Regions from separate parts of the Homo sapiens genome. Here region 2 is linked to region 1. The links come from fine-mapping of genetic effects on gene expression. A gene starts in region 1. The other region holds a variant in brackets. All regions are shown on one strand. Distances are between the middles of the regions. Region 1 holds the start of ATP10A (ATPase phospholipid transporting 10A (putative)). Region 2 overlaps ATP10A (ATPase phospholipid transporting 10A (putative)).

Region 1 (5,330 bases):
CCGCCCCCGATCTCTCACTGCAGCACCCACTCTCTGCCCCACCTTGCTTGGCACCATTTTCCTGATCCTCACACCACCGTCCCAGACTCTTGTCCTGCACTGGGACGCCTCGCCAGACATGGAGCCTGCATCCCGGGGCTGGGAGCCCCACCCAGGACTTCACCTGGTAGACATGCCCTATGGTGCCATCTGTCCCTACAGTAAACTCTGGGTGAAACCAGCCTCCTCCTCCTTCTATTCCCAGGGCCTGGCACCACCTCTTCCAGCCTTTCTGGGACTGGAAGAATTTGACCTGCCTTCCCAGGGAACAATAAACAGAAGTAGGGCATTGCGCCCACTGTCCTCAAGGCAGCTGGGAAGTGAATGAAAAATGCTGACAGTTCCTTCAGTAAGGAAGAAGACAGAGTCTGAGGGAGAGTTAAGATATCTGGAGTCAAGGGCAGAGTGGAAGGGGAGGGGAACGTAGATGGGTGTAGTCCAAATGGAAGCTAAAGTTTCAAAGTCCCATGAAGCCTTACAAGGTCACAGAGACAAGAGAATAGCTTTTAGATCCCAACCTCAGTTTCCTCATCGGCAAGATGGGTGTGATAGTTACTATAAGGATCGAATGACATAATGGATTCAAAGCACTTTGCCAACTGAAAATAAACTGTATTTCTCCTGAGGCATAAGTATTTCTAAAAAGGAGGCTACAGGAGTTACGGGCTCAGTAATAACAGGAAGTGGTATCTGTGCAAAGGCTTAAAACTGTTGAGCCCCACCAGGGCTATGTGGTGGAGGCCTCGCTCAGGGGACACGGAGGCCATTTGTGTAAGGGGTGCCGCTCTTGTCCCTGCTCAGGCTTCTGGTGAACAGGGGCCAGGAAATCCCACAGCCCGGTCTAATGACAGTCACTCTTGCTGACTGGCCAAAGAGCAAGGCTTGGGAGCAGGCAGAGTGGTGTTTCTGAAAGTGTGGGCCATCATATAAGAGTTACGTGCACGCTAATCTAATACATTCCTGGGCTCAATCCCAGGCCTGCTGAGTGAGACACTTTGGAAAACTGTAATTTTAACAAGCGCCTTCAGTGACTCTTACAAAAGTTTCAGAAGCACGAGCAAAGAAATATTCAAAAAGCTGTGCGGGCGGGAAGACCTGGGTCAAATCCCAGTACCACGACCTTGCTGCTGTGTGACACTGGGCAGGTTTACTTAACCTCTCTGAACCCGTTTACTCTGTTTACAAAAATATGGAGCATAACCACTGCAGTGTTGCTGGGAGGGTGAAAGGTACTCAACTACAGAGGCACGCATCCATGGCTTCATCCAAGCTATGAGTGCCTGTGTCTAAGGCATTCGTGAATGCCTACGTTTAAGAGGCAGGAGCCACTCTGACCCTCCTCTTTTAGGGGAACAATCTGCCACTAAGAGAGCATAGGGCTTCCTAGAGTCTCCCCATGCATAATGGAAGCCAGATACCGCTAATGTTCTATTCAGAAGCCCATCTCAGTCCCTGTTCCGGGGTCAAGCAAGGTGAGGCAGGAGGTAACGATGGGCTGAGCTTTGGAGGAAAGCTAAGACGACCCACCTTTCTCAGGGACAGGGCCTTGAGGTGGTCCAGGCTGCTGGACACAGCTCCAAGATGGATCTACCAAGGGGCTCTCCTGGGGTGGAGAGCATAAAGGATGAAAAGGCCGCAGGCCTCTGGACAGGTCCGCCGGAGACTCTAAAACTCAGGGAGGGAAAAAGAGCAGGAGTGGTCCATCGCAGGGTCACCCCTGGTACTGCCCGTGGCAGGGCTCACAAACACCCCACAGCCTCTTTCCCCCAGGAAGCAGGTTAAGATGAAGAAAATTAGGCAGGCAGCTACCGGGCGGTGCCTGGCTCGCGGCTCATGGCTCACAGTGGAGGATGGACACTGCTGTTATTTCCCCTGCCCTGGTACCTGGGCCGTGCCAGACATATCAGCACTTGGCGGCAGTTTCACTTTGCTGCTGTCCTGAGCCGAGCTGTTAGCAGACTGAGCTTTACTGTCCTGTGCCGGCTGTTCAGAGACCACTGTGCCTGGCCGAAGACTGAGGCAGGGACTTCAGGCCAGGGGGCCAGGCTGGCTTTTCCTGCCTTTCACTTCAGGTGGGAGCGGCTGTGGATGAGGATGTCCAGCGGCCGTCGGTTTCTAGCCTTGGGATCATTCTGGCCCCGACACGGAGTGACAGGGGATCCCCACGCGTCCCCGCATCCAGGGCGCCCCTTTAGCTGCGGCGGAGGCACAGAGAGGCCTTGGCGGCGCTGTGGCTTCGGTCGGCACCGGGTCCCGCGCAGCCGGGCCCTCCACCCTGAGTGGAGCTGCCTTCTAAGCACCCAGCCCCTGCCAATCACTGTGCCCAACACCAAGTTCCCGGGGCGCCCTGCCCTGCGCCACCGCGCGCTCGCTCGCCCGCCCGCCCAACTCACCTGCTGAAGACCAGGCAGCCCAGGTGGTTGATCTTGTGGTCGGAGCGGTGGCGGCTGTAGTCCTCCCACAGGTCCCTGAAGGCCGTGATGGCCAGGATGAAGAGCACCGGCGCCAGTGCCAGGCCGGGCTGGAAGGCGTTCACCGCCGGCACGAAGTTGAGCAGCGCGATGAAGACAAAGTACACGTTGGCCGGGCGGTGGAACTGCTCGAACAGGTTCTTGGGCAGGAAGGACAGCAGCGTGTACTTGGTAGTCTTGAGCCGGTTGTCGGCCAGGTGCTGGGCACACCCGCGCCGCCGTCGCCGCTCGCCCTTGGCCGCGCCAGCCGCAGGGTCCTCGGCGCCCGGGGGCGGCAGCAGGTTGGAGCGCACCGTGCGCGTCCTGCCCTCTCGGCGCCTCCGCCGTCCCGGAGGCCCGGGCTCCTCGGTCCCCGCCGGCTCCCGCTCCATGGCCGCGTGTCGCCGCGCCCGGCTCCTCCGCCGCTCACGCCCGCCCGCGCCGGCCTCTTAGGTTATCATCACTCGCGGCCCGGGCGCGGCGGTGCGAGCTCCCCGCCTGCGGGACGCACGGAGACCGCGGTCAGCGCGCCGCCTGGCCGGCCCAGCGCGCCCAGCCCGCGCCCAGCCCCGTCCACTCCCGTCCAGCCCCGCCGCCCGGCCGCAGTCCCCAGGGCGCAAGCTGGGCGGGTGCCGCACAGAGCCCCCTTGTCCTCGCCGCCCGCCCCCGGCCCGGGTCGTTTCCGCCGCGGTGGCCACGGCCCCGCCCTCGTTCCGCGCCCGGACTGGGCCACGCCGGATAGCGGGAAACAAAAAAAGCCCGAGCTGGAAACTTCAGAGAGGTTTAGTTTCGTTTCCCAGAAGCATCAGTTCGGTCCCAAAACGCTGCAAACGCGCGCTGCCTGCAGTAGGAGAGAGGAAACCGCGAAGCGCGAGAAAAGGCGCCCCCGTCCCCAAGCAGCCCGCGCGCCCTTCCAGGGGCCAGACCTGCTCCATCCTGGACGGCGAAACGACCTCGGGAGACCCCGGTTAGGACCTTACTCCAGGGATCAACTGGAATCAAAATCCAAAGGATCCATGGCATCCAGTGCTCCAATTTTTAAGTCTTTTTTACGCAGGACCTCTGCTCCTGGGGAGCCCTGGGAAGGGCGATTCCGCGTTGCCTCTAAGAACTTCTTTCCTACCCCACTTCCCAGCCCCCACCACTTTCAGATTCCGTTGTTGGGCGAACTAGACCGTTTCCTTTCCACCATCATCATTACTGCCTTTCCTTCCTCTCCTAAATAAATTCTTTTTCTTTTTTCTGTTCTTTCTTCATGGAAAGGAGAAATATATCGCTATAGCAAAGACAGAATTTGGTTTGCAGGTATTTGAGTGTCTGTTTCCCTCCCTGGGAAATCATGAGGACCGAAACGCTCCTTGTGCGCTGTAGCTCTGAGGTGGCTGTCATGGCCCGGACGGCGGGGGAGGCGAGGATGGTTGTGGGGAGGCGAGGATGGTTGTGGGGAGGAGAGGGGAGCGTCAGGAGGGTGTCCCAGAAGTGTGGGGCGAAGGGCTCCCCTCCACATCATGGGGCATCCGAGAAGGGGTGGGAGAATAAGCACGGCATGGAAAAAGGAGCTGGGAGTCCCCCACGTCCGCAGTGAGACCCCACAGATGTTTCATGGCTGTGACTGTTTGCCTCCCACTCAAGAAGTACAGAGATGAGAAGCAGTTATTTCTTGCCCAGGAGGCCGTGGCTGGGCGGTTGGCCGTGGCCCCAGGCTCTTCCTGGGGGTGCCTGCTAACAAGGCACTGCCCTGGATGGACTCAAATCACGTCTTCGCCAGGACCCTGGCTTGGGGAGGCCCTCCCCTCCAGCACCCTGGCTTACCCGGCTCCAGTTATGACATTCTTACATCTCTGCCCAGTTTTGCCACCATCCACAATGTTGCCCAGAACCCAGTGTTAGAAGGTAGAGTGGTGACAGGTGTGAAGAAAATAATCCCATCCCCCAGTCACAGGGGTGGGCTTTTGACATGTAGAGGCCCAGATCAGGGAAAGGTTTGGCTGAAGTCTGCATTGTTGGGGAAAGGAGTCAGGTCTCACAGTCAACCAGCAGAAACCCAAACGGAGCATCAACTGCAAATGAAGGCCCACAGCGCCTGCAGTCTTGAGGCCTCACATCCCATGGCTCCGTGTTTTCCTCTACCAGCCCACCTGGTGACCCCCGAGGCCTTCGGCCTCCCTACACTTCGGCCTCCTGTCTTCACAGGCATCCCCGTGGACCCTTCGCCCAAAGTCTCCAGGGGTGTCCGCGCCTACCAGACTCCCAGCTTCAGCCAGTCCACACTGTTGCCAAAGTAATTACCGCCTCATTCCATTTGCTTACCCTGGAGCTTCCAGGAGTACTCCTGGTGCTTACAAAGCCAAATGCTGATTCCTCAGGCAGAGGTCCCTTGAGGCCCTGAGGGGAACCAGCTTGCTGATTTTCTTCAGCCCCTCCCTGGTTCAGGCCCAGCCCCAAGGTGAGAGGTCTCCTTATCCTTCTCAGAACAGTCCTTACTCATCCCATCCACATTCCGCTCTAAGGTTCCAAGATTCTGTGAGTCACAATGCTCCTCAAGTCTGGAATCTTTTTCCACCTGCTCTTCCCCAGTGCAAAGTCAGGATTTCCAGGAAGGCCTAGCTCAGCTCACCTCTGGAAAGGTCTCCAAGCTGTGTGATCTGGGGAATCGTGGAGGGGTTTTGAGCTCAGGTGTCTTCTGCCAGCTGGACTCTGAGACCCTGGCCTGCTGGGGCGAGGATGAGGCTCTGATGTGGTCTGGTCAACTCTGGGTTGGCCATCTGCACCACAGGGCTCTAACAAGGGCCTGCTATAGGCCATGAGAACCACTGTAAGTGTCCTTGTTCGGCAAATACT
Region 2 (5,370 bases), 88 kb before region 1:
ATGCTTTGAAGTTGGCCTTCTTTACCACACAAATGAAAGGGCTTGTTTCTCGCCAAGGGCTGGTGCCAGTGCGGCAAAGGTCAGTTGTGACAGGTGAGTGGAACGACCCTGAAGATCTGGCACAATTCCTAACCTATGAACACCCCGGCATGCACCCAATCCCCCACTCTCCGGAACCCCAGGGAAGACAGCGTGGCCAGCAATGACACTCACATTTCTTGTCCTTTTACAGTTTTGGGAGGCGGGGAACATAAGGCCTTCTGACAGACACACTACTGAAAAGGGCTTTGTGAAAACTGACAAATTGAAGAAGTTTGCAGGCCTGATCTCAGCTTGGTTAAAAGTCTCACTGGGGTTCACGAAGTCATTTCCTTGGCACACGGATTATTCATTAGCAATGGTGAAAAAGCCCTGAATTAATTTCGACACTAAACCCAACTGAGATGTCAGGAAGCCCAGTTTCATCCACATCCCAGTAGGCAATAGTGTTTCCTGAAGTCGAGTTCTTGCTTTCCTTAAAGGTCGATTCCTTTATAAGGTCTGGTTTATGTGACTATATGAAACTGCAAATGTGTTCATGGATCTCTGCTGCTGTAGACGGGCGAAACTCTAAGGAAGCCCTAATACCACAGTGAGAACCAAAATACAGCCTTCCACTTGAGGAGCACTCGCAAACCGAAAGCATTGCATAGGTTGAACGAGGGAAGCTGGCTCTTACCAATTCACAAAATTAAGATAACTCCAATGTCTGCGGAGGTGCTCTGACAGGTCTTGCATTGTGCTCTGTGGACACAAGGAAGTTCCCTCTTGTTGAAAGCTGTGCTCACAAAACAAGCAGAAGGGAAATGACACACAGCACAGGGCCTCCACCAAGGGACAAAGGTTCCAGAGTCCAATCAGCAGAAGTGGATTGCGTGGGCACCCCTCACGTAATGCATGGGCTCACAGCAGGTCCTCAATAGTGAGATTGGAAACTCCAGATTCCCCTAGGGAGCACTCTCTTGCAGAGCAATCCACTTCTGCAACACTATATCTTAGCCCAGGAGGGAACATTTATCCTCTCCTAAATTTAGAGATAATAGAAAGTGACAACCTAATAAAGCAATATCACTTCATTTTGCTTTCTTCTTTGGAACATACACTTACTTGCACACTCACTTGCAAAAATGTTTGCACTCACACCTGTCTGCATACACACTCACACAAACATACACACCTAAACATCCACACACACACACACACACACACACACACACACATATTCACTCACTCATGAGGAGATGCCTAGTGTTAACTGCGTCGATCTCACATTGTCACCTCTTCCTACTGGTAAGGAAATCCCTGCTCCAGAAACACACATACACACAGAGGAAGTTTCAAACCCTTTGCAACTGCTGATGCAATTAAACTACATTTAGGAAAATTGGAAATTTTATTAAATTCCCGTTTTTTTTTTTAAACAGTGAAAATATAGTTAAAGAGAAAAAAAGCATTTCACATTGTACGCTACCTTGAACAGAATTAAAACATCTTACTGCTTTGGCTGTCTTTTTACTTCTGGAATAAGAAATGATCATTTCCAACCACACAAAAAATTTTAAGTTTCCACACAATATAAGAAGATCTTTTTGGATAAATATTTCAGACTAGCCAAATTATTATCAACTTCATGGCATTAATTTATTCATTTAGATCAGAGGTTCGGGTGCGGTAGCTCACACTGGTAATGCCAGCACTTTGGGAGGCCAAGATGAGTGGATCACCTGAGGTCCAGAGTTCAAGACCAGCCTGACCAAGACGGAGAAACCCCGTCTCTACTAAAAATACAAAATTAGCCGGGAGTGGTGGCACATGCCTGTAATCCCAGCTACTTGGGAGGCTGAGGCAGGAGAATCACTTGAACCCGGGAGGCAGAGAGGTTGCAGTGAGCCGAGATAGTGCCATTGCACTCCAGCCTGGGCAACAAGAGCAAAACTCCGTCTCAAAAAGAAAAAAAAAAAAAAAAGATCAGAGTGCTGGTGCTGCACTCTCTGTACATGGTGATTTAATAGACTATAAATTAAAGGCAAAGAATCCATTATGAAGTCACCAGAATTTAAAAAAAAAATCTTCTTCGGGCCAAACTTATATTGCCATGAAATAAACACAGTTAATATGAAAAAACATGGTATGTCTCAAATAATCATATTACCTAC[A/C]GAACTGAATTTCTATGAATATCCACACTTGTTAGAATTAAAAATTTAATCTAAATAAAGTTATTGTATTGTCAAAGTCATTTATTTCTGTCTTTCCTGTTACAGATTTAATGTCCTTCAAGAAAATTATGAGATTGTTAAATTTAAAAACAAAAATGTCTCAGTATAAATTATGAGCTTGTTGACTATCCTTGAATGTATAAGAGAAAAACATGGAAGCCTCTTTGTAAAGGCTTAAAACTGACCGATCTAATTACCATACCCAGGCAGCTGTCTTTATTTTCCACTTAGATGATAGATTATGCTGCCTCCTTCAATTCCACGGCCAATGTAGCTAAATTTCATTAAAGACTAACAACTTGAAAAGCTTAGGGAAAAAGAGACTTGGGTACAAAAACTACCTTGCAAATTATACTTTTTCACTTCTAGTTTTCCTGTGATAGAGACAATTTTGGAAGCATGTGTAGGTAGCAGTTTTTTAAAAAAAATATTTTGTCTTCTACATATTTGGACTTTTGAAGTCACTTTCTAAGCTTCTGAATTCTGTCAAGTAACTTGGGGTGGGACTGACTCTCCTTTGTAAAGAAAACCGTGCTGAGTCAGAGCCTGAATACACCAGGCCCCCCAGGGACTGGTCACAGTGTATTCACAAAACAGAGGGGAAACCCTGTCTCCGCCTTGGCATCACTGCTGACCTGACTGTGAAGGTACGTGTTTAAGAGCAGTGTTTGTCCAGCCTAGGAAGTTTCCATACTCCTTTTATCTTTCTTCCTTATTTGGAACACGCACCACTGTGCACACACACACGTGCACACATGTGCACACGCCTGGGAAGAGTCAGCAGCAGATCTTCCTGCAAGCCTGACAATGACTACTCCCCACAGCGCTGCACAGAGGACGTGGGTGTGGCTGGGATTGTGGGCACTCATCCAAACAGGTCCACCCAAGAGACAAACTGTTGGAAACTATTTTCTCAGTAAATTAACCCACACAGAAGTCACCTCTGGGACGGCTCTTCCCGACACTGACGTGTCCTCTGGGTCTGGACTCTCCAGCTGTTCTCAAGCAGGACAGCCCTGTCCCCGCCTCACCCCGGCTGAAATTCCAACACTCATCTGACATTTCATATCCCTGTTTCTGCTTTCTCGTCTACAGTTAGCACCGAAGACTTCAACCGTCTATCCAACTTTTCACATAGATCATGTAAGCACTATGGCAGGAAAGATGTTCCCCAGTTTTGATCAATGCACCTCCTAGAATGGCGTTAGAAACATAATAAATGCTCAGTACGTATCTGCTGAATGAATTAAAACTTACAAAAATGAGTCTTTGAAAACACTGAGTTTTATATAAAATTATCAGTCTAGGGATCTCCTAGTTCTGCAGAAATGACAAATGTTACAAATGAACTAGAAACTGCTACCCACAGAACATCTGAACGTATGCACCTTCGTGGCAGGGCTGCACGAATGTGCAGGTGAGAGACAGCAGACACCCCACGCAAAGTGGAGGAACCCGCTCCGAATCCACACTGACGGATGGGGTGGGGGAGGGGAGGCACCTTGGGAGAATCTCCTGACTTCACTTTTTCTGTTTCTCATCTATAAATTGGTGTGATAATCATTATCTCACAAGATTTATACTTAAAATTCTGTGAAATTGTGTTTAAAAATGTTTGCTCTACTACAGTTGTGGGAGATACAGTAGGCCTGGCGTGCAGGAGGCTGAACAAATGTGAGACATTGCCTGACAGTGTGATGCTCCACACGGGGGCCTCTCTCAATTCTTGGATAACATCCATTCAACTCCAACTCTTACATCAAATCTTTACGTCTCAAGATCTCTGTTTCTTTTGCCAGAAGTGAAATAGCTGGGTGATTTAAGGTCCCGGAGCCATCAGCCCGGTGTCTAGGCCTCGCCTTCAGATTCTGGGGTCTGGGTGGGCCATGCCCACCGCCTTCCGGTTTTTGTTGTAGCCCCTCAACACTGCGCACTTTTTCAAATGCTCTTCATTAAATACAACCCTATTCCGCCTCTGGGGCACCATCTGACGGACGTCATTCCCTGTAGTGCCTGGCACCTGAGACCTCTCCATCCTGGCCTTCAGAGTCAGTTTCAAGCTCCTCTTTCTGGAACCTCCCTTGACCTCTCATGGCCCCAAACCCCTAACAAAAGCCCCCTGGACTCATCTCACTGCTCCATACTGGGCATCACTGGTGAATAGGCCTGAGTCCTCCACGTATTGGTCCCATGGCTGGTCTTTAGGTGGGGTGTGTGTGTGTGTGCATGCGTGTGTGTGCATACGTGCGTGTGTGTGTGTGTGTGTGTGTACCCGTTCCGCACTGCCCACTCCCTCCAGGTTTCTCCAGGGCTTGGCCTGCTCCACACTTTCCCCATCTCTCAGTCCGGGGTACCCTGGACATATTCCTGCAGGCAACATGGGCCCTCTCAAGCCCAGGCTGCTGCTCCATGCACCCTCTCAAAGGTGGGGCTCCACGGCGCTGCTGTCTAGAGAGCTGTCACCAGTCTTCATCCACTGCAGCGAGGGCCTGGCTCCAGCAGCGTCCAGCAACTGCTCCTGGCATCTAGCAAGTTCTTATGCTTGGCACCTCCCTGGCAATAGCCTCCCCGGTCCCCAAGGGAAGGCTTCTAGCAAGTTCCACCAGTACAGCCCCTAAGTACCTTTCCTGCCATCCCCAAATTTAAGGCTGTGCCCCCTGCCATGGTTCAGGGGTTGGGAGGGTACTCTTCCCTGAGTGGGAGAACTCTGTCTCAGAGCCAGGGGCAGTGGCTGTCCCTTCATCAGCTATTCCCATATATATATATTGGAGACAGAGATAGGGTCTCTGTCCCCCAGGCTGGAGTGCAGTGGCATGATCACAGCTCACCACAACCTCAAACTTCTGGTTCAAACCATCCTTCCCATTCAATCCCTTGAGCAGCTAGGACCACAGCTGCACACCACGATATCTGGCAATTTTTTTTCTTTCTTTCTTTTTTTTTTTTTGAGATGGGGTTTCTCTGTGTTGCCCAGGCTGGTCTGGAATTCCTGGCCTCAAACAATCCTCCTGTCTCAGCCTCCCAAAGTGCTGGGATTATGGGCGTGAGCCACTGTTCCTGGCTCCTATATTCTTCAGGGTCCTCTTTATTTCTTTTTTATTTATTTTTTTAAAGA

What was found. PIP is the estimated chance that this variant, and not a neighbour inherited with it, causes the effect.
Region 2: its variant is the best candidate, but not a certain one, in a credible set for the expression of ATP10A in whole blood (INTERVAL, PIP 0.78).

What each region holds. Positions count from the first base shown.
Region 1 is chr15:25,860,216-25,865,545 of GRCh38, forward strand. It overlaps ATP10A (ATPase phospholipid transporting 10A (putative)), which reads right to left and starts at 3,112. Exons shown (of 21, transcript NM_024490.4): 1 at 2,433-3,112. The coding sequence starts at 2,881. ATP10A-DT (ATP10A divergent transcript) reads left to right here and starts at 5,055. Exons shown (of 2, transcript NR_183988.1): 1 at 5,055-5,330.
Region 2 is chr15:25,772,594-25,777,963 of GRCh38, forward strand. All of the region lies in intron 2 of ATP10A (ATPase phospholipid transporting 10A (putative)), which reads right to left. Among named protein-coding and RNA genes, the nearest start is that of MIR4715, 74 kb to the right of the region's middle. The variant A/C (reference allele first, on the strand shown) is at 2,196.